2 linked regions of the Homo sapiens genome follow. The protein of the gene in region 1 interacts with the protein of each later gene in a biochemical or structural test. Each region holds a gene or a part of one and is shown on either strand. Other genes may lie near its edges. The genes, in order: TGS1 and MED1.

Region 1 (3,824 bases):
ACATGGCAGCTAGAGAGAGAAATGAGTGCCCAGCAAAGGGGGAAGCACCTTATAAAACCATCAGATCTCATAAGAACTAACTCACCATCACAAGAAGAGAGTGGGAGAAACTGCCCCCATGATTCAACTATCTTTACCTGATTCCTCCCACAACACGTGGGGATTATGGGAACTATGATTCAAGATAAGATTTGGGTGGGGACACAGCCAAACCATACCAGTAGGATCCTAATAGTCCAAATTCTGATACAGCTTTATATTATAAGCTTTAATTCTGAGTTCTTCCAGAAGTGATCAGTCACAGTTTACACCTTGTAACAAGTTCACCCTGATAGCATGAAACACAGGCCAATTTATTGATTCACATTATTACCTGAAATATTCATATATTGGACTTTGCTATACCTGCCATCCAAGTACCTGGGAAACAAAAGTAGTTAGAAAATTGCTTGGTGTGATGAATTACCTTTCTATATTCTAAGGGGTAAAAAACACTTTCTAATGAGCAGAACCTTCATGTCAATCACATCTCCAGCAGCTCTTCAGGACAGTAGACCATAATCTTAGACTCCATGATGTCTCTGTCTCTGTTGTTCGTTTTTTAAGGCTAGTCAGATGACTCTTTTTCCCCTCAATACAGTGTCCTCCCTAACTTCAGCATACTTGTAAAATATGCTACATATATATAGCTGGTTTTATTTTGTATTACATTTCAGGTTGGTTGGCTGCTGGTGATGTTTTAATAAATATGTTCGTGGTGCTAGTTATATCTGAAACAGACTGCCTAGTATTAGTCCAGTCAGTGCCATAGGACTTTCCGTAATGTGTTGGATATAATAGCCCCTATGCATTCATCTATAGATGAGTGCAGAAACAGCTACTAAGCATTGCTGAGGAAAAAAGATATGTAACTGTTGTGTCTAACTTAGATACCTAATTTATTTATAGGCACATTTCTTTAGAGGAAGATTCTGGGTTGTTGCCCATCATGTCTACCACTTCATTCTAATTTACTCACTCTCAGGAAGGTCATGAAGACAAGATAGGAAGAATATTCTTGTTACAGAAGATGCAAAGAAGTATATGATCTGATGCTGAGCCTTGTTTACATTCCAAAGAACAAACATTTGCTGGGACATATCTTACTGGCTCTACTGTTGCATTAAAAGGCAACTTTGATTTTTTTCCAAGGTAGACTGCTTCTATTCTTACAGAAGAATTGGCCCTAAATCTTTTTAGGGTTCGTCTTTGATGCTAAGTAACATTTACATAGATTGTAGCTTGACCATTGCAGAAAGGTCTATATAATTTGAAAAACTAAAATTAATGATTCAGTAGTAAGTAGGTACATTTGTAATGTAGCTGTAGCACAGTTAAATTGTTAAGAACCCTTATGGAAAAGCCACTGGGACAGTTTGGCTTTATCCTCTTAGTATTTATTGATAGCAGGAAGTATTTAATCTGATATTTTTTTCCTTTTAAAGAAAACTTTTAATAAGGTCATGGCATGCCCAGATAGCATTCTGATTAGGTCAGAATTACTTACTATTAAGCTTGTGTGATGCAGTCTGCTTTTCAGAGCCAATAATTTTGACACAGCTTTTCAGTCAAGTCACAAATTGTAATAGGTAGGAAGATTCTGTGTAGTTTGGAATTAATTCCTGCTCATGATGTCATCTTAAAATTTAAGGTAGAAAAATTCCTCACATGGGTTAATAAACCAATGGATGAAGAAGCATCACAGGAATCATCTTCTCATGACAATGTGCACGACGCTTCCACAAGTAGTGATTCAGAGGAACAAGACATGTCTGTTAAAAAAGGTGATGACCTACTGGAGACTAATAATCCAGAACCTGAAAAGTGTCAGAGCGTATCTTCAGCTGGTGAACTTGAAACAGAAAACTATGAAAGAGACAGCTTGCTAGCAACTGTTCCAGATGAGCAGGATTGTGTTACTCAAGAAGTGCCAGACTCCCGCCAGGCAGAAACTGAAGGTAACACTAAATATGCTTCAACTTGCTAATGGATTTAGATAAAATTTTTTTTGTTAATATGTTTTTTCTTAGTTTTCACTTGTGAATCTTCTGTACCTAAGGAGTCACTGCTACTTATTTTTAAGTGAGAGAAGGCATATTAAGTGTACATGTTCTAACTGGCTATGACTTAGCACCCACAGCACTCCTCACTCTTGGCTGAGTGAACATGATCAAGTAGAAAAGGAAAGACTGTTGGGAGCATTGTGTCTGCAGACCACTGTCTGCAGTTCAACTTGGCCTCTGCTGGTACTCAGTTCCATGGGCTAAAGGTGACCATCCTTTGCCTTCTTCGTATGTGGTGTAGCTTTGGTTTACTTCTTCCTTTTTTTGTGTGAGACAGGGTCTCATTCTGTTGCCCAGGCTGGAGTGCAGTGGCACAATCACAGCTCACTACATCCTTGACCCCCAGGGTTCAAGCAGTCCTCCCACCTCAGCTTGAGTAGCTGGGACTACATGTGCATACCACCATGCCTGCTTAATTATTTAATTTTTTTTGTAGAGACACAGGGTCTCACTATATTGCTGAGGCTGGTTGCCAAAGGCTCAAGCAGTCCTCCCACCTTTGCCTCCCAAAGTGCTGGGATTACAGACATGAGCCACCATGCTCAGGCTGGTTTCCTTTTGGTGTGTTTTTGTGTGTTTGTGTGTGTGTGGTTGATGATGGTCATGTGTTTTTGATGGCACGTTAATATAAAAAGTATTCAGAGCAGTTGGCTCTAATGAATAAACTGAGTAACATTTTCAATTTATGCACTTTTGTATTCGAATTTTTATAGCAAAAGTTCTTATATAGTTTAATAATGGTATTATGAAACCATTATATTTATTGTGATCCTTCATCATATTTCTTTATTACTATGGAAAATAACTTATTTGAGTCTTGATTTTTTTTTTCTTAGTGCAAGTGTGGGTGTATGTGTATGTGTGATCTTTTTATCACATATTTCTTTACATTCTAAACAGCATACCTACAGTAGTTTACATTTATTTTATTATCAATGTTATAATAACCGATGTTCATATGACATTTGTAGGTTTGTGAAATGCTTTTATGTGTCTTATTCTCATTTAATCTGTAAGGTAGCCAGGGAAGTAGGTGGAATTATTTTCCATTCTGTAAATACAGAAAGTAAAGCTGAGAGAAATTTAAAAATTAGCCCAAGTAAGTGGCATAGCTAGGACTCATTACCAGCTTCTCCAATTGCTAAGTCCCATTTTCCTGCACTATCCCACTTCCATAAACACCAATTCTCATGATGCTGGTTATTTTTACCTGGGGTAGTACCACCTTCACAAGGGCATTTGGAAGATGCTGGTTGTTAGAATGACATTTGGAATTCTGGCATTTAGTACTCAGTTACTTAATGTTAGGTCATGTACAGGATGGTCTTGCACAACAAAGAATTATTCCACCCACAATGTCATTATACCCCCTGTTGACAAATAATCACCTTACTTTGCTATTGGTAACACTTGTTTGGGGATGGGGAGATCTGACCTTACTGAATCATGATGACACTTTTTACTATTTACAATGATCAGATGAACATATTAGGACATAGCCCTATCCTTGAGGACCATTTGAGTGTGTAATGGAGTCTTATTCTTTGTTAGCCATCACCTCTTGTTTTTATACTTAACTGTGAAAAAAGTCTCATCTTTCTATGTTGTTGCTTCTAATTTGCTGAAGACTGAAACCAAATAACCAAACTGATAAAAATTATTTAAGGAAAAAATCACTCTCTGAATGAATGAGATCCTTTTCCGTGGAATGGAGCTAGTGAC
Region 2 (3,824 bases), on another chromosome or scaffold:
ATATATACACACATACATAATAGGAGCTTAATAAGTACTTTTGGGCTGGGCACGGTGGCTCACGCCTGTAATCCCAGCACTTTGGGAGGCTGAGGTGGGCAGATCACGAGGTCAGGACTTGGAGACCAGCCTGACCAACATGGTGAAACCCTGTCTCTACTAAAAATACAAAAATTACCCAAGCATGGTGGTACGCGCCTGTAATCCCAGCTACTCAGGAGGCTAAGGCAAGAGAATTGCTTGAACCCGGGAGGAGGAGGTTGCAGTGAGTCAAGATTGCGTCACTGCACTCCAGTCTGGGTGACAGAGCGAGACTCCATCTCAAAAAAAGAAAAAAAGTACTTTTGAATAAATAAGTAAATGAGCAACTCATAAGAAGAGATATAAACGATCTGACCTGAGATAATCAGCTTACTCATTGTTTAAAAAGTGTAGAAGGATGGGCCTGGTAGTTTATGCCTGTAGTCCTAGCTACTTGGGAGGTTTGGGCGGGAGGATTGCTTGAGCCCAGGAGTTTGAGACTGTAGCATACCATGATCGTGCATGTAAATAGTCATGGTACTCCAGCCTGGGCAACGTAGTGAGTTACTGATCAAAAAAAAAGTGAAGTTTTCTAAATTAAAGAACTATGGTAATGGACATTATTTTCTGTTTGCCCTTGATACAAGAAAAGATAAAGAGAGATAGACTGCCGGGCGCGGTGGCTCATGCCTGTAATCCCAGCACTTTGGGAGGCTGAGGTGGGCGAATCACCTGAGGTCAGGAGTTCGAGACCAGCCTGACCAACATGGAGAAACCCTGTCTCTACTAAAAATACAAAATTAGCCAGGCGTGATGGCCCATGCTTGTAATCCCAGCTACTCAGGAAGCTGAGGCAGGAGAATCGCTTGAACCTGGGAGGCGGAGGTTGCAGTGAACCGAGATTGTGCCATTGCACTCCAGCCTGGGCAACAAGAGCAAAACTCTGTCTCAAAAAAAAGTGAAATGGACTAATACCTCCTTAGGTCCCTTTGTAGCTTCACTCATTGACTCCATCCCTTTATTGTTTGTTTGTTTGTTTGTTTATTTATTTATTTAAGATGGAGTCTCACTCTGTCACCCAGGCTGGAGTGCAGTAGTGCGATCTCAGCTCACTGCAACCTACACCTCCTGGGTTCAAGTGATTCTCCTGCCTCAGCCTCCCAAGTAGCTGGGACTACAGGCATGCACCACCACACCCGGCTAATTCTTGTATTTTTAGTAGAGATGGGGTTTCACTATGTTGGCCAAGCTGGTCTTGAACTCCTTACCTGAAGTGATCCACCTGTCTTGGCCTCCGAAAGTGCTAGGATTACAGGTGCGAGCCTTGGCGTCAGGCTCCTTTATTGTTATTATAATTTGGCATGGGGGACGGGGTAGGTCTCACTGTGTTGCCCAGGCTGGCGTACAGTGATTTGATCACAGCTCACTACAGCCCCCGAAGTCCTGGGCTCAAGCCATCCTCCCGCCTTGGCCTCCCAAAGTGCTAGGATTACAGGTGTGAGCCAGTGCACCAGCCTGTCCTTTTATTATGATCCTACTTAAATGCATTCTGAAGAAAAAATAAGTAAATATTGATACTGAACCCTTCAAAAATGATGTTTTTGGACTGCATTGTTTCTTGTGTTTTATTTACTGACAAAAATTATTGGTTGATTAGAAAGGTAACTTCCAGGATTTCTAATTTTTTTTTTTTTTTTCCCCAGACAGAGTCTCACTCTGTCGCCCAGGCTGGAGTGCAGTGGTGCGATTTCGGCTCACTGCAACCTCCGCCCCCCAGGTTCAAGTGATTCTCCTGCCTCAGCCTCCTGAGTAGCTGGGATTACAGGCGCCTGTCACCACACCTGGCTAATTTTTGTGTTTTTAGTAGAGATGCGGTTTCACCGTCTTCTGCAGGCTGGTCTTGAACCCCTGACCTTGTGATCCACCCGCCTCAGCCTCCCAAAGTGCTGGGATTACAGGCATGAGCCATCACACCTGGCCTGATTTCTAAGTTTTATAGGAACTACAGGCCGTGCCTGGTGGTTCATGCCTGTAATTTCAGCACTGTGGGAGGCTGAGATGGGTGGATCAACTTTAGGCCAGGAGTTTGAGACCAGCCTGGCCAACCTGATGAAACCCCCATCTCTACAAAACATACAAAAAAATTAGCCAGGCATGGTGGTGCATTCCTGTAATGCCATGTACGTGGGAGGCTGAGGCATGAAAATTTCTTGAACCTGGGAGGTGGAGATTGCAGTGAGTCGAGATCACACCACTGCATTCCAGTCTGGACAGAGTGAGACTCTGCCTCCAATAAAAAAATAAATAAATAGGCTGGGCGCAGTGATTCACACCTGTAATCCCACCTGTAATCCTAGTCCTTCGGGAGGCCAAGATGGGCGGATCATGAAGTCAAGAGATCGAGACCATCCTGACCAACATGGTGAAACCCCATCTCTACTAAAAATACAAAAAATTAGCCGGGCATGGTGATGGGCGCCTGTAGTTCCAGCTACTTGGGTGGCTGAGGCAGGAGAATGGTGTGAACCCAGGAGGTGGAGCTTGCAGTGAGCTGAGATTGCGCCACTGCACTCCAGCCTGGGTGACAGAGCAAGACTCTGTCTCAAAATAAATAAATAAATACATAAATAAATAAATAAGGGAATAACAGCATCTGATAAATTATAGCTGACAAATATTGCAAAAATTAACCTCTTAAAACATACTGTGATTCCCATCATTTGTATTACTTTGAGGAATACCCTTTTTCTTTCCTATCCCCAGTTTCTCGATCTTTGGGCATGAATGCATCAGTGACAATTGAAGGAACATCTGCTGTGTACAAACTCCCAATTGCACCATTAATTATGGGGTCACATCCAGTTGACAATAAATGGTAAGTTAAATATAATTTTAGAGTAGCAAAGTCAATTTTTCTCAAAGCGCAGTATGTAACAAGTTTTAACCTGGCTGTTACCCCACTTGAATTTCTAGAGGTTGGCCTTTTGTTTTATCCATTCATTGGTTTCTCTTTTGTTTGATATCTGAGTGTTCCTCTCCAAAGTCGGCTCGTAGAACACATTCTCTGCACTGAAAGGGAAAGAAGAGAACTGTGCTAATTCCTCTGGCTTAATGAGTGCCCCCTTTTATCTTACGTTCATTAGTTACATTGGAGTAATAACTGGAGAACATGCCTCAGGATAAATGTTTGATTAAATTCTACAGTGTTAACCAATAGCATGTCTGGGAATTGGGGGTAGGAAGTTTCACAGAGTGAGCTTTTGAGAGTTTGTACTTATGTGTCTGTGTGATACATACATGTTTAAGAATAGGTGTTTGTGGCCAGGCATGGTGGCTCACGCCTGTAATCCCAGCACTTTGGGAGGCTGAGGCAAGTGGAACACCTGAGGTCAGGAGTTCAAGACCAGCCTGGCCAACATGGTGAAACCCCATCTCTACTAACAATACAAAAATTAGCCGGGCGTGGTGGCGGGCACCTGTAGTCCCAGCTACTCACGAAGCTGAGATAGGAGAATCCCTTGAACCCGGGAGGCAGAGGTTGCAGTGAGCCAAGATCACGCCATTGCACTCTAGCCTGGGCATTAAGAGGGAAAATCTGTCTCAAAAAAAAAAAAGGTGTTTGGGTTTTTCATTTTTATATCAAGTCAGAATCCAACCCTTCCACCCTCTTTTTTTTGAAGGACCCCTTCCTTCTCCTCAATCACCAGTGCCAACAGTGTTGATCTTCCTGCCTGTTTCTTCTTGAAATTTCCCCAGCCAATCCCAGTATCTAGAGCATTTGTTCAGAAACTGCAGAACTGCAC

What was found.
Region 2: the proteins of TGS1 (region 1) and MED1 form a complex in vitro, tested with the Homo sapiens proteins (one study listed by BioGRID).

The regions. Positions count from the first base shown.
Region 1 is NC_000008.11:55,797,224-55,801,047, forward strand, and holds part of TGS1 (trimethylguanosine synthase), read left to right. Parts: intron 1-1,690; coding exon 1,691-1,997; intron 1,998-3,824. UniProt on the Homo sapiens protein: Catalyzes the 2 serial methylation steps for the conversion of the 7-monomethylguanosine (m(7)G) caps of snRNAs and snoRNAs to a 2,2,7-trimethylguanosine (m(2,2,7)G) cap structure.
Region 2 is NC_000017.11:39,423,699-39,427,522, reverse strand, and holds part of MED1 (mediator of RNA polymerase II transcription subunit 1), read left to right. Parts: intron 1-2,784; coding exon 2,785-2,896; intron 2,897-3,701; coding exon 3,702-3,824. UniProt on the Homo sapiens protein: Component of the Mediator complex, a coactivator involved in the regulated transcription of nearly all RNA polymerase II-dependent genes.